4 separate regions of the Homo sapiens genome follow, and regions 1, 2 and 3 are each linked to region 4. The links come from fine-mapping of genetic effects on gene expression. A gene starts in region 4. Each other region holds a variant in brackets. All regions are shown on one strand. Distances are from middle to middle. Region 1 overlaps SNTB2 (syntrophin beta 2). Region 2 overlaps CDH1 (cadherin 1). Region 3 has its middle 25 kb from the start of CDH1. Region 4 holds the start of CDH1 (cadherin 1).

The links.
Region 1: its variant is fine-mapped to the expression of CDH1 in whole blood (INTERVAL, PIP 0.95).
Region 2: its variant is fine-mapped to the expression of CDH1 in whole blood (INTERVAL, PIP 0.99).
Region 3: its variant is fine-mapped to the expression of CDH1 in whole blood (TOPMed, PIP 0.98).

The regions. Positions count from the first base shown.
Region 1 is chr16:69,254,150-69,261,568 of GRCh38, reverse strand. It overlaps SNTB2 (syntrophin beta 2), which reads right to left. Exons shown (of 7, transcript NM_006750.4): 3 at 1,309-1,519. Among named protein-coding and RNA genes, the nearest start is that of VPS4A, 53 kb to the left of the region's middle. The variant A/G (reference allele first, on the strand shown) is at 4,106.
Region 2 is chr16:68,806,354-68,813,772 of GRCh38, reverse strand. It overlaps CDH1 (cadherin 1), which reads right to left. Exons shown (of 16, transcript NM_004360.5): 4 at 5,206-5,349; 5 at 4,925-5,080; 6 at 3,432-3,576; 7 at 1,914-2,089; 8 at 1,510-1,638; 9 at 278-460. Among named protein-coding and RNA genes, the nearest start is that of TANGO6, 33 kb to the left of the region's middle. The variant C/T (reference allele first, on the strand shown) is at 3,659.
Region 3 is chr16:68,708,285-68,715,703 of GRCh38, reverse strand. It overlaps a transcript of CDH3 not described here. Among named protein-coding and RNA genes, the nearest start is that of CDH1, 25 kb to the left of the region's middle. RefSeq lists cis regulatory regions at 550-551, 1,384, enhancers at 479-623, 1,312-1,456, 3,835-4,334, 4,335-4,836 and silencers at 3,875-3,924, 3,955-4,004, 4,075-4,244. The variant C/T (reference allele first, on the strand shown) is at 4,096.
Region 4 is chr16:68,733,080-68,740,415 of GRCh38, reverse strand. It overlaps CDH1 (cadherin 1), which reads right to left and starts at 3,124. Exons shown (of 16, transcript NM_004360.5): 1 at 2,953-3,124; 2 at 2,005-2,119. The coding sequence starts at 3,000. It also overlaps a transcript of CDH3 not described here. RefSeq lists a silencer at 3,009-3,078, a cis regulatory region at 4,031 and enhancers at 3,959-4,103, 7,151-7,336.

The DNA of each region.
Region 1 (7,419 bases), 520 kb before region 4:
TATAGAAATGATCACTGTACTAATATTACATTCTCATTTATTATAATTTTATTTGAAATGTTCATAAAAAGTTGAGAAGTGGCAAAAAATAAAATAAAAAAATTACTCTCGCTGGTGACCAAAATTGGCCCCTCAATTACCACAATTACTTGGTACCACCAAGATCACCAGGCACCACCCACAGACCTACCACATCAGAACTGCTTTGGGGACAATATCCTCCTCAAATAAAATCAACCTCAACTTAAAAAAAAAAAAAGTTAGAACTATGTTGGGGAGGAAGGTGGGAACCAGTGGGAAACTGTACTTGAAAAAAAAAAATCAAAAATGAAAGAACAAAATCCTTCCTGTGCTGATTCTGCTTTTTTGGAAACCAGTTATTTAGTCCACTCCCTGGCCCTTTGCACACACAACTAGGATTCAAAACGTAAGTTTCGAAAAGACTCAAAAGCAGTGAAAAACAGAGCTAGCACTTAAACACTCATCTCTGAACCCCCTAGTCCAGTCCTTTTTTTTCAAGCCCCTCTAGCCTAGTTGATGGTGAAGAAAAAAGATGTAACATAATGTCACACGGAACTTTTACTCTCCTTTTGTCAAACCTGGGATCTAAAATAACCTGGGTTTTCAAGTTCTTTTCCTTTAACTCAACATCCACTCAGACTTTCTTGTTTCTCTTTTTTTCACTTTTCAGTTATGGAAGACAATTGTACCTCTGTCTAATTGTAAAGTATTTTGTATATTTTATACTTTTCCCAGAGCAGAGGAATCAACTATAGCCTGCTGCCCCTAGAAGCTCTTCCAGTAGGGAACAAGGGTTGGGAAACTATGACACTTGGGCCAGATCCAGCCAACCACCAGTTTACTTGTCTTTGTAAATAAAGTTTTACTGAAACGCAGTCACACCCATTCATTTTCCTATTGCCTATGACAGTTGTCTTGCTACAACAGAAGAGTCAAGTAGCCGTGACGCTATCTTGCCCTTTACAGAAAAAGTTAGCTGACCCTGATCTAAAATCATGAAAATTATCCTCTGTCATTAAGGACAGAGATGGTAATAAGAACTTCTTTAGTAATAGTATGATAGTGATTACTATGTCAGCTACTTCTGGTTGAGTGGATAATTAGCAACAAATAGACAAAGGTAGAAGGAGAAAAAGGGAGGTGAAACAAAACACTGAAAAACAAAAGATCTGCAAGCTAGATATCCAGGTCCTAACTGCATGGTAAGTATTACAGATATATTAAATGAGGAACCATCCTGGCACTGAATGGGAACCAGGTGATACTCTGCCCTGCCTCCCAGCCTACCTGTTCTGCCAGCCAGGCAATATGCTTCACCTCTTTACTGCCTCCTGCTGTACTGGTTGCCCCAAGCATGGCGTTGAGTTCAGCCAACACCTGTGGGAGGAGAGCCATTATGTTGGTGTGGATAGCTACGAACCAGGAGTGTGCTGTGGCTGTATCTTTGCAGCGTAGGATCAACGTGTTCCTGCTATCAGGAGAATGTAGCTCTATCAATCTGTGTGGAAAAAGAAAAAAAAAAAAGTGAGCTAGGACAGAAGTCACCAAACCTGCCAGGTTTAAAATACATAACTGCAAATCTATTTTAATTTTGCATTCTTCAAATAAATTTGTATACTCAAATAAAGATACTTTCTTGGCTGGGCACGGTGGCTCATGCCTGTAATACTAGCACTTTGGGAGGCCAAGGCAGGGGGATTGCCTGAGCTCAGGAGTTCGAGACCAGCCTGGGCAACACGGTGAAACTCTGTCTCTGCTAATATATAAAAAATTAGCCGGACATGGTGGTGGGTGCCTGTAATCCCAGCTACTCAGGAAGCTGAGGCTAAGGCAGGAGAATCGCTTGACCCCAGGAGGCGGAGGTTGCAGTGAGCCAAGATCACACCACTGTACTCCAGCCTGGGCGACAGAGCGAGATTCCGTCTCAAAAAAAAAAAAAAAAAAAGATACTTTCTCTTAATTCCCTAGAGTCCAGTTCCAAAGAAAACAACACATGGAAAGATAAAAATCAGAGGCCGGGCACGGTGGCTCACTCCGGTAATCTCAGCACTTTGGGAGGCCAAGGCGGGCAGATTGCCTGAGGTCAGGAGTTTGAGGCCAGTCTGGCCAACACAGTGAAACCTTGACTCTACCAAAAATACAAAAAATTTAGCCGGGCGTTGGGGCGTGTGCCTGTAATCCCAGCTACTCGGGAGGCTGAGGCAGGGGAACTGCCTGAACCAGGGAGGTGGAGGTTGCAGTGAGCCGAGATCCAGCCTAGGTGACAGAGCGAAACTCTGTCTCAAAAAAAAAAAAAAAAAAAAAAAAAAAATCAGAAAGACCAACTTGGGCTAGTTACTGAACCTGAGAAAAAATTAAAAAAAGAAACACCAACTGCTGGATCTGTCGTTTCGGTGTTAATGTAATAAGCTGAGGGAACTTACTGTAGAGTCTACAGTAGATCACTTTGCCTTAATTTCTATGTCTAAAAAATGAAAAGCATGCTTGCTGAACCACATAGGCACACTGTAAAGAAGGAACTGATACCCTTTTAAGCATTTAGGAAATTCTGGTATAAAGTAGTGCCAGCTTAAAAAGATGTACTGCCATATAATGAACTGAAATTTACATTATGTGAAATAAATAGAAAATTAGCGGCCAGGCATGGTGGCTCACGCTTGTAATCTCAGCACTTTGGGAGGCTGAGATGGGCAGATCACCTCAGGTCAGGAGTTTGAGACCAGCCTGGCCAACATGGCTAAACCCTGTCTCTACTAAAATATACAAAAATTAGCCAGGCGTGATGGCACATGCCTGTAATCCCAGCTACTGAGGAGGCTGAGGCAGGAGAATTGCTTGAACCCAGGAGCTGGAGGTTGCAGTGAGCCAAGATTGCACCACTGCACTCCAGCCTGGGCGACAAAGCGAGACTCCCTCTCAAAAAAAAAAAAAAAAAAAAAAAAGAAAGAACAAGAAAATTAGCAGAAGATTATTACTCTGTAAAATTTGAAACTGTGTTTGGGTACTTTTATATGATTACTCCTCCAGTGAATTAGGTAGAAAAATAGTTAAGAGATCAACACTATAACTGTTCTGTATTAATGCTCACCAAGAGCAATCTGTATTTCAAAAGTAACCTTTAGAAAATAGCTAAAATATTTTAAATATACATTGAAAAAATTATTTATAAAGCAATCTATTGAATATTGTTTTGTGTTTCAATCAAAGTTCTTGCAAAGATGAATTTTAAAAGTCAAATAAATAAATAAATGACTAAGATATATACTCTGCTGTGAACATATATATCTTTTAAAATGGAAAAAAAAAGCCTTTAGTGTTTTTCATGGTAGGCTACAAATTGACAAACTGCCAATGACCAGGGAGAGAGTTTTCTTTACATTATTTTCTGAAGACAGTTTTTGCTGCCTAAAAGCACTATCATCAGATTCTATGCCACTTGTCAAAAAGATAAGCAATTTACAAGTATACTAGCATTTCTGCTTTGAAGCTCTTTTGTCAGTTTCTAAACCCTTTATAACTCCAAATACTTTAAATTGTCATATTTTGTATTGCAAATATTCATTTTCATTTGAATTCTGGTTGGTCTATCCTTTCTTAAATAAACATTTATTGAGCACCTACTACATGCCAAATATTGTGCTAGGCACTGGTATTGGAGATACAGTGATGAAAAAAGTAGATCATCTAGCTACTTCCAGGCCTACCTACCAGTCTATCCATCTTTTATATGCTGTCAAAGTTCTATGGTAACAGCAAAATAGGACAAAAGTTCTAGAAAATAGAAGACATAAAATAAGAGTTGTGGCTGGGCGCGGTGGCTTACGCCTGTAATCCCAGCACTTTGGGAGGCCGAGGCAGGTGGATAACAAGGTCAGCAGATCGAAACCATCCTGGCTAACATGGTGAAACCCCGTCTCTATTAAAAACACAAAAAATTAGCCGGGCGTGGTGGTGGGCGCCTGTAGTCCCAGCTACTCGGGAGGCTGAGGCAGAAGAATGGCATGAACCCGGAGGCGGAGCTTGCAGTGAGCCGAGATCATGCCACTGCACTCCAGCCTGGGCAGCAGAGCAAGACTCCGTCTCA[A/G]GAAAATAAATAAATAAATAAATAAATAAATAAATAAATAAATAAATAAGAGTCATGAACAGCCAAAGGGCTTAAGAAAAGTCCATATTTGAAAGTTCATGTTACTCAGAGGAAAACTTTCAGATAAAAAGTTTTAAGCTATTTGCTTTTTATTTAGATACAGTTCTGATGAGCTCTTTGATTTCCTATTCTATACCTAAACATATTAAGACATAGCTTGGTTCCAGAATTTAGAGGATCTTGAATAGCAGGTTAGGTCTGAATATTAATTGGTAACTTTTTTTTTTTTTTTTTGAGATGGAGTCTCGCTCTTCGCCCAGGCTGGAGTACAGTGGCACGATCTCAGCTCACTGAAACCTCTGACTGCCGGGTTCAAGCGATTCTCCTGCCTCAGCCTCCCAAGTAGCTGGGATTACAGGTACATGCCACCAAGCCTGGCTAATTTTTTGTATTTTTAGTAGAGACAGGGTTTCACCATGTTGGCCAGGCTGGTCTCGAACTCCTGACCTCAAGTGATCCGCCTGCCTCGGTCTCCCAAAGTGCTGGTATTACAGGCGTGAGCCACTGTGCCTGGCCTTAATTGGTAACTATTAATAACATAGAATCATTTAGAATTCTCAACAGGAGGGCAACATGATCAAAACAATTAACTTAAAAAATAATTTTATGAGACATTTGTACACCCATGTTTATAGCAGCATCATTCACAATAGCCAAAAGGTGGAAGCAACCCAAATGTCCATCAATGGAGGAACAGATAAACAAAATGCAGTATATACATATAATGGCATTATTCAGCCTTAATAAGGAAAGAAATCCTAACACATGTTACAACATGCATCAACATTGAGGATATTATACTAGTAAAATAAGCCAGTCACGAAAGAAGAAATAACATATGAGCCTACTTTCATGAAGTATCTAGAGCAAACTCACAGAAAGCAGAATGGTAAGTGCCAGGAGCTGAAGGAAGGGTGAAATGGGGAGTTTTTCAATGAGTAGAGTATTTTAGTTTTGCAAGAAGAAAAATTTCTGGACATTGGTTGTACAAAAATATGAATATACTTAACACTTCTGACCTGTACACTTAAAAATGATTAAGAAATTTCATGTTATGTGTATTTTACAATTTAAAAAAAATTAGGCCAAGTACAGTGACTCATGCCTGTAATCCCAACACTTTGGGGAGGCTGAGGCGGGGAAATCACTTGAAGCCAGGAGTTTGAGACCAGCCTAGGCAACAAAGTGAGAACCCATCTCTACAAAACTTTTTTTTTTGAGACGGAGTTTCGCTCTTTCACCCAGGCTGGAGTGCAGTGGCCCGATCTTGGCTCACTGCAACCTCTGCTTTCTGGTTTCAAGCGATTCTCCTGCCTCAGCCTCCCGAGTAGCTGGGACTACAGGCGCCGGCCACCACGCATGGCTAGTTTTTGTACTTTTAGTAGAGACGGGGTTTCACTATGTTGGCCAGGCTGGTCTCGAACTCCTGACCTCATGATCCGCCCGCCTCAGCTTCCCAAAGTGCTGGGATTACAGGCGTGAGCCACTGCGTCGCCCCCCACCCCAACCAATTTTTTTTTTTTTTTGAGACAGAGTTTACCTCTTGTTGCCCGGGCTGGAGTGCAATGGCGCGGTCTCAGCTCACTGCAACCTCCACCTCCTGGTTTAAGCGATTCTCCTGCCTCAGCCTCCCCAGCTGGGATTACAGGGAAGTGCCACCAAGCCTGGCTAGTTTTTGTATCTTTAGTAGAGTGGGGGATTCACCATGTTGGTCAGGCTGGTCTGAAATTCCTGACCTCAGGTGATCCACCCGCCTCAGCCTCCCAAAGTATTGGGATTATAGGTATGAACCATCGTGCCCAGCCCCAACAAAAAATTTTTCTTTCTTTCTTTTTTTTTTTTTTAAGACGGAGTCTGGCTCTTTCGCCCAGGCTGGAGTGCAGTGTCGTGATCTCGGCTCACTGCAAGCTCCGCCTCCCAGGTTCACGCCATTCTTTTGCCTCAGCCTCTCGAGTAGTTGTGACTACAGGCACCACCACCATGCCAGGCTAATTTTTTGTATTTTTAGTAGATACGGGGTTTCACCATGTTAGCCAGATGGTTTCGATCTCCTGACCTCGTGATCCGCCCACCTTGGCCTCCCAAAGTGCTGGGGTTACAGGCGTGAGCCACTGTGCACGGCCCTCAAATTTTTTTTTATCAGCCAGGCATGGTGACATACATCTGCAGTCCTAGCTACTAGCGAGGCTGAGGCGGGAAGATCTCTTGAGCACAGGAGTTCGAGGCTAGAGTGAGCTATGATAGTACCACTGTACTCCAGCCTGGGTGACAGAGCGAGATCCTGTCTCTAAAAAATAAATAAATAAAATAAAAATAATAATAAAATAATTTTATGGTGGGATGTGAGATGAATTACAATAAAGACAGAAATGGCCTGGTGAGATTTAATTGAATGCAAGAAGAATGAGACTACACACAGAAGTCATCAGTAGGGACACAGATTACTGGGCAGAAATTCTTCCATCCTAAGAGCCCATTGCAGCCTTGACCATACAGGTCTCAAGTGATCCTCCCACCTCAGCCTCCCAGTTAACTGGGACTACCACAGATGTGCACCACCACACCCAACTACTTTAAAAAAAAATTTTTTGTAGAGACAGGGTCTCACTATGTTGCCAGGCTGGTCTTGAACTCCTGGGCTCAAGTGACCCTCCTGCCCTGGCCTCCTAAAGTGCTAGGATTATAGGCATGAGCCACTGTGCTTGGTCCCTCTGTATATTTGGGATACCAGTCCTTTATTGGATATGTATTTTGTAAAGATTTCTTCCCAATGTGTGGCTTGTCTTTTCATTCTCTTCAGTGTCTTTTGCAGGGCTGAAGTTTTAAATTTTAAAGAGGTTCAACTTGTCAAGTTTTTTCTTTATGGATTGTGCTTTTGGGGTTGTATGTAAGAAGTCACCACCAAACTTAAAGGGGATTTTTTAAAAAGCATAATCTTACAAATCCAAGAACAGGAGAGGAGTGACTACAACAAAATTTTGGAAGCTAGTAAAGAGAGGAGTTAAATGACTTAGCTGATTTAAGAAAAGTGGAAAGAGCCAAATCCCAGCCAATCCATGTTGGAGAATCCCTAAGAGGCCGGGGAAGCGGTGGTACCAGTTACCTCTGGAAGTGAGAGTAAAGCATGCAGCTTTACTCTGCGTGGTATGCCTGAAAGCCTGTCAGCATTCTCCACATCCAGTGGCCAGTGACTGCCCCACCCTCATTCTAGCAGAAGATTCAGAATCACCCTCATCCCACCAAACTGGGTGGGG
Region 2 (7,419 bases), 73 kb before region 4:
TTTAGCAGAGACTCAAACTCCTGACCTCGTGATCTGCCTGCCTCAGCGTCCCTAAGTGCTGGGATTACAGGCGTGAGCCACCACACACAGCACAGTTTCTTGATTTCTTACATGAGCAGGAAGAGCCACTGCAAATCCCACATGGTCCACTACAATCTGGGAAAGTCACCCTGTCCCCCTGCCAAAGCGAATCTACTTCTAAGAAGATACCAGGGGACAAGGGTATGAACAGCTGTGAGGATGCCAGTTTCTGCATCTTGCCAGGTACCATACAAACCTTTGCTGTTTTCAAAATGCCATCGTTGTTCACTGGATTTGTGGTGACGACAAATTGTCCACCATCATCATTCAATATGGTGTATACAGCCTCCCACGCTGGGGTATTGGGGGCATCAGCATCAGTCACTTTCAGTGTGGTGATTACGACGTTAGCCTCGTTCTCAGGCACCTGACCCTTGTACTGCAGAGCAAAGAGATGTGTCATTTACAAAGTACCAAGACTGCTAGCAGAGCTGAGTCTCAGGGGGCTAAAGGATTCCTCTTTTTTTGTTGTTCTTTTGAGATAAGATCTCACTGTCACCAGGCTGGAGTGTATTTGAGCGATCATGGCTCACTGTAGCCTCAACCTCCTGGGCTCAAGCAATCCTCCCACCTCAGCCTCCAGAGTAGCTGGGACCACAGGCATGCACCACCACACCTGGCTAACTGAAAGCAAGCTTCAAGGAGAAGATGTGACAAGGAGAGGCCAGGCAATGGGCGCACTGGGGTGCAATGGTACAATCTCGGCTCACTGCAGCCTCCGCCTCCTGGGTTCAAGCAACTCTCATGCCTCAGATGCCCGAGTAGCTGGGATTACAAGCATGCACCACCACGCCCAGCTAATTTTTGTATTTTTAGTGGAGATGGAGTTTCGCCACGTTGGCCAGGCTGGTCTCAAACTCCATCCTCAAGGGATCCACCAGCCTTGGCCTCTCAACTTGCTAGATTACAGGTGTGAGCCACCACGCCTGGCCATTATACAGGATGATTTAAACTTACCCTACTTGGTTCTCAATACCTTCTCCTTGAATGCATGTAATATCCTTGGCATACAATAATTCTCATAAGATGTCTTCCTGGCTATACCAGAAACACCATGAGAATGGAATCTTTGTGTGTGATGGTCTCTCCAGTGTCTAACACAGTGCCTAATATAAACTTAGAAAATATTTGTTCAATAAAGAAATGAAACCAGGTAATATTTGCTATAAAAATGTACCATGAGACTATGAAATCAGTAGGTGCTTTTTGCAACTTCACAATCTTGCACCAATTGGCCCCAGGCCAAGGGTGGAAAAAAGATACTAAAAGACAACTGCCATCTCAAGATGCTTGCTTTTAAGTTTAAAGTTAACATTCTCTAGTCTGGAGAGAGTTTTCAAAGACTTCGCCCATGAGCAGTGGTGACACTTAGTTCATGAACAACAAAAGACCTTTCTTTGGAAACCCTCTAAGGAGTTATAGAATTACCGTGGTGGGATTGAAGATCGGAGGATTATCGTTGGTGTCAGTGACTGTGATCACAGCTGTTGCTGTTGTGCTTAACCCCTCACCTTGAAGGTCAGCAGCTTGAACCACCAGGGTATACGTAGGGAAACTCTGCAGAGAGATCGACACAACCAAGTCAGGACCAGGAACACTAGCCACCTTTGGCCTAGCCCAGCCCAACACATGGAACCAGAATATTTAACCATGTGCTTCATGCCAGCCTGCCTGTCTTCTAGGCACGGAACCTCTGGGCACAAGCTTAGATGCAAAGCTTAGACCATCACTGTATTAACTGACAACTGGCCTAGCAGGATTTTGCTTTGTCCACGGGATTGAGCTAATACACATTTGTCCTCCACACCCTCTGGATCCTCCTGACCCCTGACCTCTCGGTCCAGCCCAGTGGTGACCACACTGATGACTCCTGTGTTCCTGTTAATGGTGAACATATTTTTGTCAGGGAGCTCAGGATCTTGGCTGAGGATGGTGTAAGCGATGGCGGCATTGTAGGTGTTCACATCATCGTCCGCGTCTGTGGCTGTGACCTCCATCACAGAGGTTCCTGGAAGAGTTCAAGGAGATGAAGGTTTAGACAAGCTGCACTTTGGGACTGGGTCAATACTGCTTAATCCAATTCTGCCCTGAGGGATAAAGGAGGGGACATGGGGGTGGTACCGTGTCAGAGTTCCCTAATTCCTAGAATTCTTACCAAAGTGCTAGGGGAGAAAGAAAGCTCAAACTATCAACTTATTATCCAGGTATAAATACACAAATGGTAATAAAGAAAAGAAAGGGAATGATTACCACAAAAGTCAGGGTGTGGTTATCTTTTTTTTTTTTTTTTTTTTTGAGACGGAGTTTTGCTCCTGTTGCCCAGGCTGGAATGCAATGGCGTGATTCGGCTCACCACAATCTCTGTCTCCCGGGTTCAAGCAATTCTCCTGCTTCAGCCTCCCAAGTATCTGGAATTATAGGCATGCGTCGCCACGCCCAGCTAATTTTCTATTTTTAGTAGAGACAGGGTTTCTCCATGTTGGTCAGGCTGGTCTCAAACTCCTGACCTCAAGTGATTTGCCCACCTTGGCCTCCCAAAGTGCTGGGGTTACAGGTGTGAACCACCACACCCAGCCTAGGGTGTGGTTATCTTTATGGAGGAGAGAAAAGAATGTGACCAAGGGGGATTGTTTAGGGCTTTAAGGTACTGGTAAAGATCTGTTCCTTAATTAGGAAGGTTGTTCTTAGCCAGGTATAGTAGCTCATGCCTATAATCTTAGCAGCTTGTGGGGCTGAGGTGGGAGGATTGCTTGGGCCCGGGAGTTTGAAAGTAGCCTGGACAACAAAGCAAGACCCTGTCTCTGAAAAAAAAATTTTTTTTTTTTTGAGACGGAGTCTGGATCTGTCACCCAGGCTGGAGTGCAGTGGCGTGATCTCAGCTTACTGCAACCCCCGCCTCCCGGGTTCAAGCAATTCTCCTGCCTCAGCCTCCCAAGTAGCTGGGATTACAGGCCCCCGCCACCACGACCGGCTAATTTTTTTGTATTTTTAATAGAGACGAGGTTTCACCATGTTGGTCAGGCTGGTCTTGAACTCCTGAGCACAGGTGACCCATCCACCTTGGCCTCCCAAAGTGCTGGGATTACAGGCATGAGCCACCATGCCCAGCCTAAAAAAAAAAAAAATTAATAATAAAAAAGGGAAGATTGTTCTTAAACTCTCCCTATTTTATATGTTTCCACAGGTAGACTGTTACACACATGCATATAACACAACAATGGCTTGCCAAGAAGTTCTGTCCGTAGGAAGGATCAGCTTTAGTTACACAACCTTTGGGCTTGGACAACACTTTGGGGTCCAAAGAACCTAAGAGTCTTTCTGAGTATTCAGATTCTCATTAGTGGATATACCTGGAAGAGCACCTTCCATGACAGACCCCTTAAAGACCTCCTGGGTGAATTCGGGCTTGTTGTCATTCTGATCGGTTACCGTGATCAAAATCTCCATTGGATCCTCAACTGCATTCCCGTTGGATGACACAGCGTGAGAGAAGAGCTGAAAGAACCAAGTGAGGGTGACTTGAGCTCTGATGAGGAAGAAAACATGGGAGAAGGGGCCCAGCCAGAGCAGAGTGCGC[C/T]CCCCTGGCTGCCACACCTTCCTAGGCTCTGAGACCCCCAGTGGGTGACTTTTCTCACACATGTGCTGCTGCTGCTTCAGTGAGATTATAACAAGGTAAGAGCCATGGGCTGGAGAACACCCCCCACGGCTCAGACCTCCCATTTCCCACACGAGGACCAGGGCATCAGGCCTAGAGATGAAGATGCGGGCCTGAAAAACTCTTATTCCATGCCGGGTGAAACTTGCTCTGGTCCTTTTAGTCTAGCATTTCCCCCAGATATTTCTGAATTTGGCATCAATATATGACTTCCTGGCCAGGCATAGTGGTTCATGTAATCTCAGCACTTTGGGAGGCCGAGGTGGGCAGATTGCTTGAGCTCAAGATTTCAAGACCAGCCTGGGCAACATAGCAAGATCTTGTTTCTACAAAAAATACAAAAATTAACTGGGTGTGGTGGCCTGCGCCTTTAGTCTCAGCTACTCAGGAAGATGGGGTGGGAGTGTCGCTTGGGCCCAGAAGGTCCAGGCTGCAGTGAGCTAAGATTGTACCACTGCATTCCAGCTTGAGTGACACAGGTAGACTCGGTCTCAAAAAAACAAAAATCCAAAACAAAAACAAATGACCTCTTGTAGGCCGGGTGCAGTGGCTCCCTCCTGTAATCCCAGCACTTTGGGAGGCCAAGTAGGGTGAATCGCCTGAGGTCAGGAGTTTGAGACCACTCTGGCCAACATGGTAAAACCTCATCTCTAATAAAAACGCAAAAAATTAGCTGGGCATGATGGCAGCTGCCTATAATCCAGCTACTCGGGAGGTTGAAGCAGGAGAATCACTTGAACCCGGGAAGTGGAGGTTGTGGTTCCAGCCTGGGTGACAGAGTGAAACCCTATCTCAAAAAAAAAAAAAAAAGACCTCTTGGTTTTCCTAAGCTCTTGCTGCTGCCAAGCCCAAGAAATGGGTTTTGCTCCCTTATATCATCACTGTCCTGTTCCTTTAGGTCAGGGACTTCCAGCCCCAAGAACAGGTTGACATCTTGGGTCTAAATTTGTCCTGGTTGTATGAGGATGCATGCGGATTCTCCTTCCTTTCTTCCTGACAAGGAGAAAAATTAACAACCCCAAACTGTCCCACGTTCTCCCATCACTTCTCCTTAGCAACAGGTCAAGAGGTGTCAAGTTAAGCTCCTCATGTGTTCAGAGCCTCTGATCTGCGGATCCAGCATGGGTTGACCAAAAAATCCTGGGTGGATGTTACCCCGGTGTCAACAAGCTTCTAAGAGATACTTACAGTGTATGTGGCAATGCGTTCTCTATCCAGAGGCTCTGTCACCTTCAGCCATCCTGTTTCTCTTTCAATAATAAAGACACCAACAGGGGGTGTGTCAGCTCCTTGGCCAGTGATGCTGTAGAAAACCTTGCCTTCTTTGTCTTTGTTGGATTTGATCTGAAGACAAAATGAAAGAAAAAGAATTAGTAAAGAAGGATCCCAACACTGGGTCTTTTCCCTTTCTCTCCTTGGTACTTCTCTGCCAAATCCCTCCCAGAGAAACAGAGAACTTCTTTCTCTACCTGAACCAGGTTTTTAGGAAATGGGCCTTTTTCATTTTCTGGGCAGCTGATGGGAGGAATAACCCAGTCTCTCTTCTGTCTTCTGAGGCCAGGAGAGGAGTTGGGAAATGTGAGCAATTCTGCTTGGATTCCAGAAACGGAGGCCTAAAAGGAAAGAAGATGAGGAACAAGATAAGACAATTCAAGACGGATACTTCAGGTCTAACAGTCCAACCTAGCCAGACAGCGTCCCCAGCCTTCTGTGGGCAGTGTACAGTTTGAATTTAATGACACATTCTCTTATCAATGACAAATTATATATATCCACCAAAATGACCAATCAAAACAAAAACCAATGAGACCCTTTGCTATATCGTAAAGACTGCATTCTCTTTTTATCCTTCTTAGTGTCCAGAGCTCAAATAATCATCATGCATACACAAGTATTGGTTTCAGGGTTTGATATTATAATTTACAAGCTGTTTCAAGCCTACATAATCTCATTTTTATTTTTTTGAGACAAGATCTGGCTCTATCACTGAGGCTGGGGTACAGCGGCAAGATCTTGTCTCACTGGAACCTCTGCCTCCCAGGCTCAAGCCATCCCTCCCATCTCAGCCTCCTGAGTAGCTGGGACTACAGGTGTGCACCACCATGGCTGACTAATTTTTGTATTTTTAGTAGACGTAGGGCTTTGCCATGTTACCCAGGCTGGTCTCGAACTTGTAAGCTTAAGCAATGTGGCCTCCCAAAATGCTGGGATTACAGGCATGAGCCACCACACCCAGCCCATAATATAATTTTTAACAGCAACATTATACTCTGATGATTTAATATCAGAGCTTACTCAACAACTGAATATTTGGGTTTTCGATTTCTTTTCTTTTCTTTTTTTAAATAGAGACAGGGTCTTGCTCTGTCACCCAGGCTGGAGTGCAGTGAAGTGATCAAAGCTCACTGCAGCCTTGAACTCCTGAGCTCAGGCAAGCCTCTGACCTCAGCCTACCAAGTAGCTGGAACTACAGGCATCCACCACCATGCACCACCATGTGCACCTAATTTTTTAAATTTTTTAAATTTTTTTAGAGGCAGGGTCTTGCCATCTTGCCCAGACTGGTCTCGAACTCCTGGGCTCAAGCGATTCTCCTGCTTTGGCTTCCCAATTTGCTGGGATTACAGGTGTGAGTCACCGCACCCAGCCTCTTTTATATTTTTCTTGGGGACACAGGTCCTCAACGTGGAGTTATCCCAAAACAAGTAGATTTTGAGAACTTGTACTAAGAACTACTTTGTGATCAATATAAATCTCTTCATCTCACTGTATCATTATGTCTATATGGTTTCCATTTGTTCTAACAGAAGCTGTTGGGATGGAAGCCAAAAACACCCTTTGAGACTTGTATTGAACAGTTTTCATATGCAATAAAGATAACTTTATGCACATGCAGGGAAATAAGAGAGTTGAAAATGGAAGGAAAATATTTGCCAAATTGTTTAAGTGTTTTAAGGTGATTACTGGTAACACAGTAAAGTTTCCAGGGGAAAATTCCATCTCTCACCCTCCACATAAAAACTCACAGTCACTGATCACTGCTTGCCAAGTTTGAGTTCAGCTCTATTTTCTGGCTTTAAGATTGAAGATGCACCAGATACATGTGAGATATGACCAGGTATCATCACAGAGCCCTTCCCCAATGCTGCACACTGGCCACATGTGCACACATGCGCACACACCTATGCTCTCTGCCCTCTACATCCTGTGTTTGTCTCCTAGAGAGGCAGCCCAGCCTGCGCCAAGGGCAGGCTCTGGAGCTAGACTGCCTGGCTTTGAATCCTCATGACAGTACCTCCTTGCCCCAGGCAGATATTACTTAATTTCTCTGTATTACAGCTTCCTAATGTCTGAAATGGGGATAATATTAGAACCTATCTCATATAATTCTTGGAAGGATTAAATGAGATGCTGGTATTGCACATTTAAAGCACTGTGAATACTGCCTGAAACATAGTAAGTGCTCAATAAAGGTAATGATGGAGATGATGGTTGGACTGGTTGGAAAACACTGAGTTATGGTTTTATTGAGATTTGACCCCAGCACATGAACAAAATAAAAAACTGACCATCATCACTGTATCCTGGGCCAGGCGTGGTGGCTCACACCTGTAATCCCAGCACTTTGGGAGGCTAAGGCAGGCAGATCACTTGAGGTCAGGAGTTTGGGATCAGCTTGGCCA
Region 3 (7,419 bases), 25 kb after region 4:
TGTGGGGTGGCAGGAAGTGGGGCGGCTTCTCAGGGCAAAGAACAACATGTCTTTATTAAAATGCTGTGCACCAAGAACGCTTTATGAGTACAGACCTTGGCCTTGCTATTGGGCAACTCCCTGCAGGCTGGAGTGGGGCTATGTCTCTGGGAGAAGATGAGCAGGACTCCAGGGTGTGCCCGGGCTACTTGAACATCGCCCCAGTTCCTCTCACTCAGTTATGCAATTAATACTACTGTGGAGTGGGCAAGAGCTGGATTCAAATCCTTTCTTTTTTTTTTGAGAGTCGTGCTCTGTCGCCCAGGCTGGAGTGCAGTGACACCATCTTGGCTCACTGCAACCTCCGTCTCCCAGGTTCAAGTAATTCTCCTGCCTCAGCCTCCCGAGTAGCTGGGACTACAGGGCTGCACCACTATGCCTGGCTAATTTTTTGTATTTTTAGTAGAGATGGGGTTTTGCTATGTTGGCACGGCTGGTCTCGAACTCCTGGCTTCGAGTGATCTGCTCACCTCAGCCTTCCAAAGAGTTGGGATTACAGGCGTGAGTCATGGCGCCCGGCCTCAAATTCCCTTTCTGCTACTTCCTGGGTGTGTGGCATTGGGCAAGTTTAGAACTTCTCTGACTTTGGTTTGCCCCTCCGTAAAATGGAGCTAATAGTACCTCTCTTATGAGGTTGTCCTGATACTTTTTATTTTTTGAGACAGGGTCTTGTTCTATCGCCCAGGCTAGAGTGCAGTGGCCCAATCATAGCTCACTGCCAGCCTCAAACTCCTGGGATCAAGTGATCCTGCCTCAGCCTCCCAAGTGGCTGGGACTACAGACACGGGCCACCATGCCTGGCTAATTTTTAAATTTTTGTAATGATGAAGTCTTGCTATGTTGACCCAGGCTAGTCCTGGCTTCAAGCAATCCTCCTGCCTCCGCTTCCCAAAGCGCTGGGATTACAGACAAACCACTGAACCCGGCCTTGTCTTGATACTTAAATGAGGTAGTACACATAAAGTGCTCGGAATACATTTGGTAGCTGAAAGTGCTCTACAGCTATTACCTATCACCAGGGACCTTCGGTGGGCGAGATCACAGTCCCTCAGACTGGTTGGGGAAATGGACAGGTAAAGAGACAATTACAATTCTGTGTGCTGGGTGTATTCATACAGATGCTAAGAAAACTCTAGGGGAGGAATACTAAATCCAGAAGGCTTCCTGGGGAAAAAAATGACATTTTGGCAGGAACTAAGCTGCTTGTAGGCTAAGGCAGAGGCAAAGTCGTTGAGAGACTAGAGACCAGCCATTAACTCCCTTTGCTGGGAATGTGGTGATGGAATTCACAGAAGGTTTTCAGTCCTGGATTTCAATTCCGATTTCTCAGCACCTGCCTGGGTCTCAGGTCCTGTGCTTGGTGCTGGGGTGAGGGTAGAGGCTGAACATAATTAGGCAAAGGTGCTCAGTGAGCTCAAGATCTAACTGGGGGGCTGGGTGCGGTGGCTCACGCCTATAATCCCACCACTTTGGGAGGCCAGGGTGGGCAGATCACCTGACGTCAGGAGTTCGAGACCAGCCTGGCCAACATAATGAAACCCCGTCTCTACTAAAAATATAAAAATTAGCTGGGCATGGTAGCGTGTACCTGTAATCCCAGCTACTTGGGAGGCTGAGGCAGGAGGATTGCTTGAACCCAGGGGGCGGAGGTTGCAGTGAGCTGAGATCGAGCCACCGCACTCCAGCCTGGGTGACAGAGCGAAACTCTGTCTCCAAAATAATAATAATAATAATAATAATAATAAATAGAATAAAAATTGATCAGATTTGGGCAGGGATGGGGTGAGAAGAAAAGGCACACCAGGTAGGGGAAACAGCACAAGCAAAGGTAAAGCAGCAGGAAGGCCTATATTCCAGGAAGGGTGCATTGCCCAGTGTGGCTGTGTGGTCTGTACCTGGGGAGCGGGACAGTGGGCAGGAGCCAGGGCTATAAGGTCAACCTAGGCTGGGATTTGAAGGGCGTCCAATGACATGCTGCTTGGCCCTTGTCCAGTAGGTCATGGGAACAGAACGGAAGTGTTTAAGCAGAGAAGGGATGTGATGGGATCTGCGTTCCGGAAAGGTCACTCTGGCATAGCTGGAGGAGGAGTCCTTGGGAAGCAGGGAGCACAGCTGGGAGGCTCCTGCAATCATCTCAACAAGAAATCTGGGGGTTTGGCCTAGGTCAGGGGAGGTGGGCACCGAGAGGAGGGGTGGAGGGTTTGTAAGCAGACTCTGAAACACTTGAAATCAACACCTTGACACTATTCCCTGGCAGCTCCAGGGTCGGGATGTCTAAAATCCCTGGAAAAATAAACTTGCTCCCGCCTCAGCCAGCAGGAAGAAGAGCAACCCGATATGCTTGTTGATTAGGATTAGGGAACTTTTTCCCCCTTTATTGAGGGTCAACTGAATTATTAGTGGGGCAAAAGAGACAGGGGGAGACATATAAAAGTGAAGCGACTTAATTTTATTGTTTTTCCTTGACGGAAACAATGTATGAGATAGATCAACATTTAAAATGTTTTTCAAGGGTCATAAAGAGTAGTCAACCAAAAACAATCTTGACTTCATTTCCATAGAGACACAGAGAGTGGGGAGAGGAGGGACAGAAGGGCGGGGAGATCACAGGAGGAGGGGAGACAGATCAGAAAGGGAGGATGCTGCACTGGCTGCGAGGGGGCTGCTTAAGAACCTTGGAATTGACCAGGCACGGTAGCTCATGCCTTTAATCCCAGCACTTTGGGAGGCTGAGGCGGGTGGATCACCTGAGGTCAGGAGTTCGAGACCAGCCTGGCCAACATGGTGAAACCCCAACTCTACTAAAAATACAAAAATTAGCTGGGCATGGTGGCACAGGCCTGTAATCCCAGCTACTTGGGAGGCTGAGGCAGGAGAATTGCTTGAACCCGGGAGGCGGAGGTTGCAGTGAGCCAAGATCGAGCCACTGCACTCCAGCCTGGGTGACAGAGGGAGTCGCCATCTCAAAAAAAAAAAGGAACCTGGGAATTGAGAGGTCCTGAGTTCAAATTTCAGCCAAGTTCTCCCACCGTTCTCCCATATCTGTCAAATGGGGATTATAACATCTTCACCATCTGCACAATGTTATGGTATTGGATTTTCATCTTAGAAAGATCAGATCACTCTGGCCACCTGATTGGAGCCAGATAAGAGAAAATGTACCCATAGACTACCCGCTCTTAGAATGCTTTTAAGACAAGGTTATTATAATTATTATGACCATTATTATTATTGTTGCTATTATCGTAGCTTTATTATTATTTTCTTTTGAAATTCTGCTTGGCCACTGTTTACTCCCAGCTCCAGCTGCTCTTGTTGAAACCTCTCTGGGCCGGGTGTGATGGCTCACGCCTGTAATCCCAGGATTTAGGAGGTCAAGGTGGGAGGATTGCTTGAGCCCAGGAGTTGGAAACCAGCCTGGATAACATGGAGAAACCCCATCTCTATAAAAAGTACAAAAATTAGCCAGGCATAGTCACATGCACCTGTAGTGCCAGCTACTCGGGAGGCCGAATGGGAGGATTGCTCGAGCCTGGGGGGTTGAGGCTGCAGTGAGCTGGGATTGTGCCACTGCACGTCAGCCTGGGTGACATCGCGAGAGTCTGTCTCAAAAAAAAAAAAAAAAAAGAAAACAAAAAAACCCAAGAAACAAACAAAACACAAGGAACATCTCTGGACTCCTAGCTTCCTAGGATCATGCAGGGTGGAGGGTGCACTCTCAAAACTTCCATCTTAGGGCTGTCCTGGGAGCACTGGCTGCTCCTCCATCCCTGGGCTGCACCCAGAGTAGACAGGGCTGCCTTGTTCCTCTTATCCTCCCACTCCACTGTCCGATACTGAAAGGTGACACAAGCAGGGTTCCTCTGCTCCTCTCTGTGAGTCAGTGCCCATGCCCTCGCCCTCGTGCCCCCTACTCAGGCCTCACCCCTCAGCTTTTACTTCTCTTCCTGGGAAACCACCCCAGTGGGGAGGCAAAGAAGATGAAATAAAGGATGTAAGTTCCCACGGGACCACCACTTCCCCTTTCCCTTCCTCTCCAGCTGCTGGCCACTTCCC[C/T]GTCCCCTCTCCAGTGGGAAGCAGAACAGAGGCTGTGGGAAACCGGCACCATACCGTCCCTGGCATGGGCGCAGCCAGCCCTGCGTGCAGCCAGCCCTGTGTGCAGTTCCTCACCTGTGTAACCTTGGGTAGCCCTGCTGCACCTGAACTTCCTCACTCACAGGTCCCCCAGCCGCCTCCAAGTGTTCAAAATGCCCAGAACTCTGCACTGCCCTCCTCACACCTGCTCTTTCTCTTTCTTTCTTCTTTCCTTTTCTTTCTTTTTCTTTCTTTTTTTCTCTTTCTCCCTCTCTCTCTCTCTGCTGGAGTTTCACTTTTGTTGCCCAGGCTGGAGTGCAATGCCGCAACCCAGCTCACGGCAACCTCCGCCTTCTGGGTTCAAGCGATTCTCCTGCCTCAGCCTCCCGAGTAGCTGGGATTACAGGCATGCGTCACCATGCCCGGCTAGTTTTGTATTTTTAGTAGGGACAGGGTTTCTCCATGTTGGTCAGGCTGGTCTCAAACTCCCGACCTCAGTGGATCCGTCCACCTTGGCCTCCCAAAGTGCTGGGATTACAGGCATGAGCCACCTCGCCTTCTCTCCTCCCCTCCCCTCCCCTCCCCTCCCCTTTCCTCCCGTCCCCTCCCCCCTCCCCCCTCCTTCCCCTCCCCTCCCCTCTCCTCCCCTCCCCTCCCTTCTCTCCTTCCCTCTCTCCTTTCTTCCTTTCTTCTTTTCTTCTTTCTCTCTCTCTCTCCCTTTTTCTCTTTCTCTCCTTTTTTCTTCTGAGACAGAATCTCGCTCTGTCGCCCAGGCTGGAGTGCAGTCACTCAATCTCGGCTCACTGCAACCTCTGCCTCCTGGGTTCAAACGATTACTCCTGCCCCGGCCTCCTGAGTAGCTGGAATTACAGGCGCCCGCCACCACACTCGGCTAATTTTTGTATTTTTAGTAGAGACGGGGTTTTGCCATGTTGGCCAGGCTGGTCTCAAGCGATCCGCCTGCCTCGGCCTTCCAAAGTGCTGGGATTACAGGCGTGAGCCACCGCGCCCAGCCATAGTTTTTCAATCTAAGCTCTATTGACTTTTCAGAGGGAGGATCATGTGCTGTGGGGGCTGTCCTGTGCATTGTAGGGGGTTTAGCAACATCTCTGGCCTCTACTCATTAGATGCCAGTAGCACCCCCACTCCAGTGGTAACAACCACAAATGACTCCAGACATTGCCAAATATCCCCTGAGATGGCATAACTACCCCTGGTTGAGAACCACTCGGTTAGGGTGACCAGCTGGGATGGCGAGGCATCCTCAGACTAGCAAATGGGAAGCCAGGGCAGCCCTTAGTCCTAACAGGGCAAGTGCAGAAACTGCCTTTCAGACCCCAGGGAGTGTTGGAGCCATGGAAGAGGGTCCACATGACAGGAGCTGTGGCCATAGAGGGTGCAGAGCGCAGCCAGTGCCAAACCCAGCCCGGCAGGGAGGGAGCAGGCGGAGGGATACTGCCACTTCCCCTCCTTCCCGCCCCATCTCCTGTGGGTTCCTTCCCCCAATGTAACCAACCTAATCCAGAACACAGGGCAGCTAGGGCTGCCTCCTGGTTGCAGAGCAGCGGGAAGAAGGGAAGAGAGTGGATCTGGGGGAAACGGGGAATTAACCAGCGCAGAGGCCATTGTGGCCATCCCAGTTGGGGTGCTGGTGGCTGGGACAAAGGTGGTGGTGGAGAATGGACAGAAGTGGTTGAATTCCAGGATATCTGGGAGGACTCCATGGATGATCAGCATGGGCAGTCAATAAAAGGAAGGAGTTGAGGACAAGGTGTTTAGGTTTCTGGTTTGGGCAGCTGGGCTGATGATGGTGCCGTCTTTAGAAATGAAGGAGACAGAAAAAGGAGGCCAGGCGCGGTGGCTCACGCCTGTAATCCCAGCACTTTGGAAGGCCGAGGTGAGTGGGTCGCTTGAAACCAGCCTAGCCAATATGGCGAAACCTTGTCTCCACTAAAAATACAAAAATTAGCCGGGCGTGGTGGAGGGCGCCTACAATCCCAGCACCTTGGGAGGCTTAGGTAGTAGAATCGCTTGAACCTGGGAGGCAGAGGTTGCAGTAAGCCGAGATTGTGCCACTGTACTCCAGCCTGGGTGACGGAGGGAGACCCTGCAACCCTGCTCACCCCACTGTAGACTGCACCTCCATGAACCCTTCTCCGGTCACCTTTTGAGCTTGCCTCTCTTGCTTGCCAGCACTCTAATTGACAAGAGTGCTTCTGCGCCGGGTGCAGGGGCTCGTGCCTGTAATCCCAACACTTTGGGAGGCCCAGGAGGGAGGATGGCTTGAAGCCAGATCGAGACCAGCCTGGGCAACACAGTGAGACCCCTTCCTTACCAAAAACAAAAAATCAGCTGGGGGTGGTGGTACACACCTGTAGTCCCAGCTATTCAGCAGGCTGAGGTGGGAGGATTGCTTGAATCCAGGAGGTCAAGGCTGCAGTGAACTGTGATTATACCACTGCACTCAGCCTAGTAGATGGAGTGAGACCTTGTCCCAGAAAAACAACAAATAGGCTGGGTGCAGTGGCTCACACCTGTACTCCCAGCACTTTGGGAGGCTGAGGTGGGCAGATCACCTGAGTTCAGGAGTTTGAGACCAGTCTGGTCAACATAGTGAAACCCAGTACCTAATTAAAAAATACAAAAATCTGCCAGCATGGTAGCTCACACCTGTAATCCCAGCACTTTGGGAGGCCGAGGTGGGTGGATCACCTGAGGTCAGGAGATTGAGATCAGCCTAACCAACATGGTAAAACCCCGTCTCTACTAAAATACAAAAATTAGCCAGGTGTGGTGGCAGGTGCCTGTAATCCCAGCTACTCAGGAGGCTGAGGCAGGAGAATCGCCTGAACCCGGGAGGTGGAGGTTTCAGTGAGCTGAGATCATGCCGCTGTACTCCAGCCTGGGCGACAGAGCGAGACTCGGTCTCAAAAAAAAGAAAAAAAAAAAGAAAAAGAAAGAAAGAAAAGAAAAGAAAGAAAGACAGAAAAGATAAAGCATTGGGGGGTGCAGGGCTGCAATTCTAAGGAGGATGCAGTCCCCTTCAGGGCTGGCATCTCTGACAGGCTGACATGTGGGTGATGCCTGAAGGACGTGAGGGAGCCGAGAGAAATCTAGGGGAATGGCATGCCAGGCAGAGGGCACAGCAAGTGCAGAGGCTCTGAGGAAACGTGGTTTGATTTGGAGTGAAACTTCAGCGTTTTACCTGGCACATGGTAACTGCTTAATTTGTTCAAGTCCTACTAATTATCTTTTTTTTTTTTTTGAGATGGAATTTTGCTCGTCACCCAGGCTGGACTGCAGTGG
Region 4 (7,336 bases):
CTTGAGCCCAGGAGTTAGAGATAACTTCTGATCCAATAGAAAGCTCTAGAGCACACAGAGCAAATATACTTCATCAGTCGAGCTGTAGTTTCTCTGTAAAAAACTTCGAATGACTTCCAAAGTTCAAAAAAAAAATGTAAAGACAACAGCGTGATTGCTAAAGATTCATGTGGTCAAAGACTGGAAGAATGACACAGTGGAGGTGTTCCCTCAGGGGAATTGTGGGTGATTTCTCTTAAAAAAAAAATGCCTCTTATTGTGATACCCAATCAAGTAAAATCATGAGAGAGGAGAAAGTGGTTTGATATAAAGGAAGCACTTGGGATTCAGTGAAACCAGAAGAGAAACTAGCCCCTTCCCTTGCTCCCTGGACAACAGTCAAGTGGAACAAAGCAAACTCTAGATTGTCACAACGATAAGGCCTAGAAGTACATTGGGTGTATGCATTTTCATCCTGAGTCAGAACTACCATGCTTTTTTTAAAAAAAGATCATTATTCCTGGCCAGGCGTGCTGGCTCATGCCTGTAATCCCAGCACTTTGGGAGATTGAGGCAGGTGGGTCACCTGAGGTCAGGAGATCCAGACCAGCCTGGCCAACATGGTGAAACCCCTTCTCTGCTAAAACTACAAAAAATTAGCTGGGCATGGTGGTGGCACCTGTAATCCCAGCTACTCAGGAGGCTGAGGCAGGAGAATCACTTGAACCTGGGAGCCAGAGGTGGCAGTGAGCCGAGATCACGCCATTACACTCCAGCCTGGGCAACAAGAGTAAAACTCCATCTCAAAAAAAAAAAAAAAAAAAAAAATCATTATTCCTTGGGGGAAACAGTACCTGTATCAAGATGTTTTGGTCCAGGCACAGTCTCTCAGGCCTGCAATCCCAGCACTTTGAGAGGCTGAGACAGAAGGATCCTTTGAGCCCAAGAGTTCAACACCAGCATGGGCAACATGGAGAGACTCCTGTCTCTAAAAAAAAATTTATTTTTTATTTATTTTTTGAGACGGAGTCTTGCTCTGTCACCCAGGTTGGAGTGCGGTGGCACTATCTCAGCTCACTGCAACCTCTGCCTCCTGGGTTTAAGCAATTCTCCTGCCTCAGCCTCCTGAGTAGCTAGGATTACAGGCACACGCCACCATGCCCGGCTAATTTTTATATTTTTATTTAGTAGAGATGGGGTTTCACCATGTTGGCCAGGCTGGTCTCGAACTCCTGACCTTGTGATCCGCCCACCTCGGCCTCCCAAAGTGCTGGGATTACAGGCGTTAGCCACTGCGCCCAGCCTAAAAAAAAGTTAAAATTATCCAGGTGTGGTGGCACATGCCCATGATAACCAGCTACTAGGGAGGCTGAGATGGGAAGGATCACTTGAGCCCAGAGGATGGAGGCTGCAGTAAGCTATGATTGTGCCACTGCACTCCAGCTTGGGCAACAGAGCAAGACCCTGTCTTTAAAAAAAAAAAAAAAAAAAAAAAAAAAAGCTTTTATATCTGTAAACAAAAGCCACAGCCCAGTAACCAAGAGAGGGCTGCTCTTCAGTCATCCCAGAGATGGTGCTTAATGGGGCCTGGGAGTCAGATCCCAGTTCAGATATCTGCTCTGCTGACCCTGAGCAAGTGGACGTCACTCTCTTAGCCTCGGTTTGCTCAACTGTAAAACGGGAATACTCCTGCCAGGCCTTCCCACCCACCAGGTTTTTGCAGTCTGAAATGAGAGACTGTCTCTACAGTGCTGAGGGCAATAAGAGAAATACGAAGGCTTCTAGTAAGTGCCCTCAACCTCCTCTTCTTTATAACATAGTCAACAACCAGGCAGGGTTACCCCCTCCACCACAGTGTTCAGTCGTAAACGTTTGGATCCCCAAATCTGCGTAAATTCCAAGGGGTGTCGTTTGAGCCAAGGAGGGAGCTTGCCCATTGCAACCCAGGGGTGTGGGAGTGCAATTTCTCGGCCCCTTTCCAACCCCTCCCTACTCCGCCCAGGGACACCGGCAGCGCGCCCTCACCTCTGCCCAGGACGCGGCCTCTCTCCAGGTGGCGCCGGGGCACCGTGAACGTGTAGCTCTCGGCGTCAAAGCCAGGGTGGCAGGGCTCCGGCTCCTGGCAGAGCCAAGAGGAGACCTGGGGTGGGGGAAAGGTAGATGGAACCGGGTGACTCGGAGGGTTCCCTCCTGCTCACCGAAACCAACAGCGCCGCCCCTCCCTCGCTCCCGGCGTCGGGATTGGGGGAGGACCCCAGCCCGCAGCCCCGGGACGGGCGGGCAGCGACGTCACCCTCCCCCACCCCGAAACCTACGGCCGCCGAGCCCCCAGGAACTCCCGGGAGGGGGCCGCCGAGTCACCCCCTCAAGACCTAGCCCACCGTTCCCTTTCAGTCTCCTTTCTCATTTTATTGGAGATGTCTTTATTCTCCAGTACCCCACTTTCCTTAGACCGGGAATGCACCACTCCTCAGAGCGAGGGGCGCTCCCACCTCCTCCGACCTCACTTTCTTATCCCCGGGACCCTCACTCCTATTTACGACCTTTCTTGGCATGGCAGGTGCCTTTATTTCTACGGATGCCCCTCTCCTTCCCTCGAAGATCGTCCCCACGACTCCTGGCTCCCCCTCGACTTGCACCAGGGCACCCCTTCTCCACACCCCACCCCCTACACCCCGCTTCACGCCCCCACCGCCCGCGCGAGCCCACCCCGCGGACTCCGCGGCCAGACGCCCCCGCCTCGGTCTGCGCTGGAGGGGGCAGGAAAGCCGCGCTCGCCCCTCACCACCCACCCCCCACTCCCATCACTGGGGGGTCCGGAGCGCGCGAGGCTTCCAGGCCGCTCCGCTCCTCAGGACCCGAACTTTCTTGGAAGAAGGGAAGCGGTGACGACGGGAGAGGAAGGGGCGCAGGGCTGGGGCGCGGAGCTTGCGGCCCGAATGCGTCCCTCGCAAGTCAGGGGATCCGGGGTACCTGCAGCAGCAGCAGCAGCGCCGAGAGGCTGCGGCTCCAAGGGCCCATGGCTGGCCGGGGACGCCGAGCGAGGGCAGGCGCCGGGTGCGGTCGGGTCGGGCCGGGCTGGAGCGGGCTGGAGTCTGAACTGACTTCCGCAAGCTCACAGGTGCTTTGCAGTTCCGACGCCACTGAGAGGGGGTGCGTGGCTGCAGCCAGGTGAGCCCCGGAGGCACCGCCCCCCGTACCGCTGATTGGCTGAGGGTTCACCTGCCGGCCACAGCCAATCAGCAGCGCGGACCCCTCCCCAGGGCGGAGCTGACGGCCCGCCCACCCGGCCTCGCATAGACGCGGTGACCCTCTAGCCTGGAGTTGCTAGGGTCTAGGTGGGTTATGGGACCTGCACGGTTCTGATTCCACTGGGTTCGAATCCCAGCCCCGCCGGTGGCTCACTAAGACCTGGGATCAGAAAGGGCTTTTACACTTGGCTGAGTTCTTTTGTTTTTTGGGATTTTTTGTTTGTTCGTTTTGGAGATGGGGTCTCACTCTTTCACCCAAGCTGGAGTGCAGTGGTGCGATCACAGCTCACTGCAGCCTCGAACTCCTGGGCTCAAGCGGTCCTCTGGCCCCAGCCTCTCTAGTAGCTGGGAGTACAGGTGCACACCACCACGCCAGGCTAATTTTTTTTTCTTTTGCCTTTTTGTAGAGAGACAAGTCGGGGCGGACAGGGGCAGTGGGGGCGCTGTGTCTCCCTGTATTGCCCAGCCTGGTCTCGAACTCCTGGGCTGAAGCGATCCTCCTGCCTTGGCCTCCCAAAGTGCTAGGATTTCAGGTGTGAGCCATGAGCCACTGAGCTAGCAGCCTAATTTTTTGTTTGTTTGTTTTGTTTGTATTTTTTGAGACGGAGTCTCGCTCTGTCTTGCCCAGGCTGGAGTGCAGTGGCACGATCTCGGCTCACTGCAACCTCCGCCTGCCGGGTTCAAGAGACTCTCCTGTCTCAGCCTATTGAGTAGCTGGGACTACAGGCGTGTGCCACCACACCGGCTAATTTTGTATTTTTAGTACAGACGGGGTTTCACCATGTTGGCCAGGCTGGTCTGGAACTCCTGACCTCAGGTGATCCACCCTCTTCAGCCTCCTGAAGTGTTGGATTACAGGCGTGAGCCACTGCACTCTGCCTCGAGCGGCCTAATTTTTTAAAAAATTTTTCTAGAGAGGGGATCTCACTATGTTGCCGAGGCTGATCTCAAATTTCTGAACTCAGGCGATCCTCCTGCCTCAGCCCCTTTACTGAGTTCTCATTTTTTAATCTAGTCTTTTTTAACTGTAGAGCTTCATGGGTTAGTGAGTCAGCAAATTGATTCCCTAGGTCAGGACCACCTCCCAAAGCCTCAGTTTCTCCACCCTCCTAATGGGAATAATGATCAGAAATGTCTCCCTATGCTGTTGTGGGACTCCCATACAATTAAAATGACAAATGTTTCTTGAGCCATAAATGCTCTGTACAGAAGTGAGGGGTAAAAATAGTAACAATAGGGCCAGGCATGGTGGCTCACGCCTGTAATCCCAGCACTTTGGGAGGCCGAGGCGGGCAGATCACGAGGTCAGGAGATTGAGACCATCCTGGCTAACGCAGTGAAACCCCGTCTCTACTAAAAATACAAAAAATTAGCCAGGCGTGGTGGTGGGCGCCTGTAGTCCCAGCTACTCGGGAGGCTGAGGCAGGAGAATGGCATGAACCTGGGAGGTGGAGCTTGCAGTGAGCCGAGATCGCGCCACTGTACTCCAGCCTGGGCGACAGAGCAAGACTCTGTCTCAAAAAAAAAAAAAAAAAAAAAATAGTAACAATAGGTGCTGGACATTGAAGATTACTGTGCCAGTCTCTGTGCTAAGCATTTGACACTGACCAGCTCTTTTTTTTTTGAGACGGAGTCCTGCTCTGTCGCCCAGGCTGGAGTGCAATGGTGTGTTCTTGGCTCACTGCAACCTTCGCCTCTTGGGTTCAAGCGGTTCTCCTCTATCAGCCTCCTGAGTAGCTGGGATTACAGGCATGCGCCACCACGACTGGCTAATTTTTGTATTTTTAGTAGAGACAGGGTTTCATCATGTTGGCCAGGCTGGTCTTGAACTCCTGTCCTCAGATGATCCACCTGCCTCAGCCTCCCAAAGTGCTGGGATTACAGGCATGAGCCACCGTGCCCAGCCACTGACCAGCTCATTTAAGCTCATTTCAAAACAACCCAAGAGCTGTATTATTATTCCCATATGATAGATGGGCAACTGAAGCTTAGAGAGATTGAGGCCAATGAGAGGTGGCGCAGGACTGGAACCAACCTCTCTGATTCCAGGGCCTTTCTTCTAACAATCAGCTTCATCTCATGTGGTCCCAGTCTTCCAGCTGGAGCTGCAGTTTTCAGTCTGTTTTTTGATGTTGACCTGGAAGAGACCTTTAGAGTTCACCCAAACCTATGATTTGCAAATAACTTGTTCAATGTCACATAGGCAGGTCAATGTCAAAGCCAAAGACCAAAACCCAGGATCTTCTGACCCCCAGAGTGGGGCTTTTAATGCCACAGCCACACCATGGCCACCATCACCTTCTCCAGAGAATTCTGTCCCCAGTGAAATAATTTTAGGATCAAAAATAGAATAGATAGGGGCCAAAGGTCTCAGGTCCTGGGCCAGTGGCCCTCCAGCACCCGCCGTCCTCCATCAAAAGACAAAAACAGAATAGACAGGCAAATGTTAGGTTAGACAACTTCCCTGTCTGACTCCCTGTGGCCAGCCACGTCTGGGTGGCTTGTCTACCCCGACAAGGGCACCTCCTTTCCCTTTATCCTTCAAGCATGGTTAGAACTACACAGCATTAAGTGGAGTCAGCCACTCACTAGCCCTGTGACCTTGGGGAAGTCAGTGTTCTCCTTTGTATAAGTGAATTGGCATGAGCTAATACAAAAACAATCGCTAAGCAGAGTTCTTGGCTCATCATAGCAACTGCTCAATAAATATTTGGAGTAGGGGTTACTCTTTCAAAAGGCCCAGCCCCTATTTCGCTTCCTCCTGGGGAAAGCCATGTTTGGAATATTTCACCCAGAGCTAAAGGTGCCTCTGAGTCCATCAAGTAATTTCTCAAATGCAGACGATTTCTGGGCAGCCCAGCACCGCCCCCCCCAACAACCTGTCCCCTCAATTTTAATGAGTTTCCAATCAGGTCTTTTGGATGTCGTATTTTGGCTCCCTCTGCTCTTAACCCACCAGGAGGCTCAGAGGGAGAAGGCTCCGGTATTTCCTTTCCCACTAGGATCGTGCCTTGAACAAGATAATGGAAATACAGAAAGAGGCGTTTCCCCCATGGGGCTGTACTGTCTGCTTATTTTTTTCCTCTCAGTTATGTAAAAATACATATTTTATACCATCGCTGGGCCCTGGGAGCCTTTAGGGCTTTACTTTCTTCTACCCAGCAAGCCTTGGCCTCGTAACTCTGCAGCGACTCTCATCGACTCTTCCATTACACTCTGATAATTCAATAAAAAGGATTTTAGAAAACAATTAGGGGCAGCAAAGTCAGGTCAGGCCTGATGCATTCTTCAGACTTCTCGGCAAGTCCTTCTCCAAGCTCCAAAGACAGTAGATCAGGTGTCCAGGGTGAGGCGGGAACACAGAGGGGCTCCTTGTGGAAGACAGGTGCTGTGTGACTTTCGCAACACACTGAATTGCTTCTCTGTTTCCTATTTATTTATTTAGTGACAAGGTCTTGCTCTGTTGCCCCGGCTGGAGTGCAATGGCGCGATCTCGGCTCACTGCACTCTCTGCCTCCCAGGTTCAAGAGATTCTTGTGCCTCAGCCTCCTGAGTAGCTGTGATTACAGACACACGTCACCATGTCTGGCTAATTTTTGTATTTTAGTAGAGACGGGATTTCGCCATGTTGGCCAGGCTGGTCTCAAACTCCTGACCTCAAGTGATCCACCTACCTCAGCCTCCCAAAGTGCTGGGATTACAGGTGTGAGCCACTGTGCCTGCCCTCTGTTTTCTCTTGTATCAAACAGGGATACCTAAGCAGGCCTGGTGGCTCACAACTGTAATCGCAGCACTTTGGGAGGCTAGTTGGGAGGTGAGAAGATTACTTGAGCCCAGGAGTTTGAGACCAGTCTGGGCAACATGGTGAAACCCCATCTCCCCAACAAATATTATTTTGAATTAGCTGGACATGGCAGTGCATGCCTGTAGTCCCAGCTACTCTGGAGGCTGAGGTAGGAGGATCATTTGAGCACTGGAGCCACTTCACTCCAGCCTGGATTCACTTCTGGCTCTGCCATTAGTTGAGAAGCATAAGTCATTTTATCTCCACCATCTTGGTTTCCTCATCTGTAAAATGGGAATGTTGATAGCACTTAATTCATAAG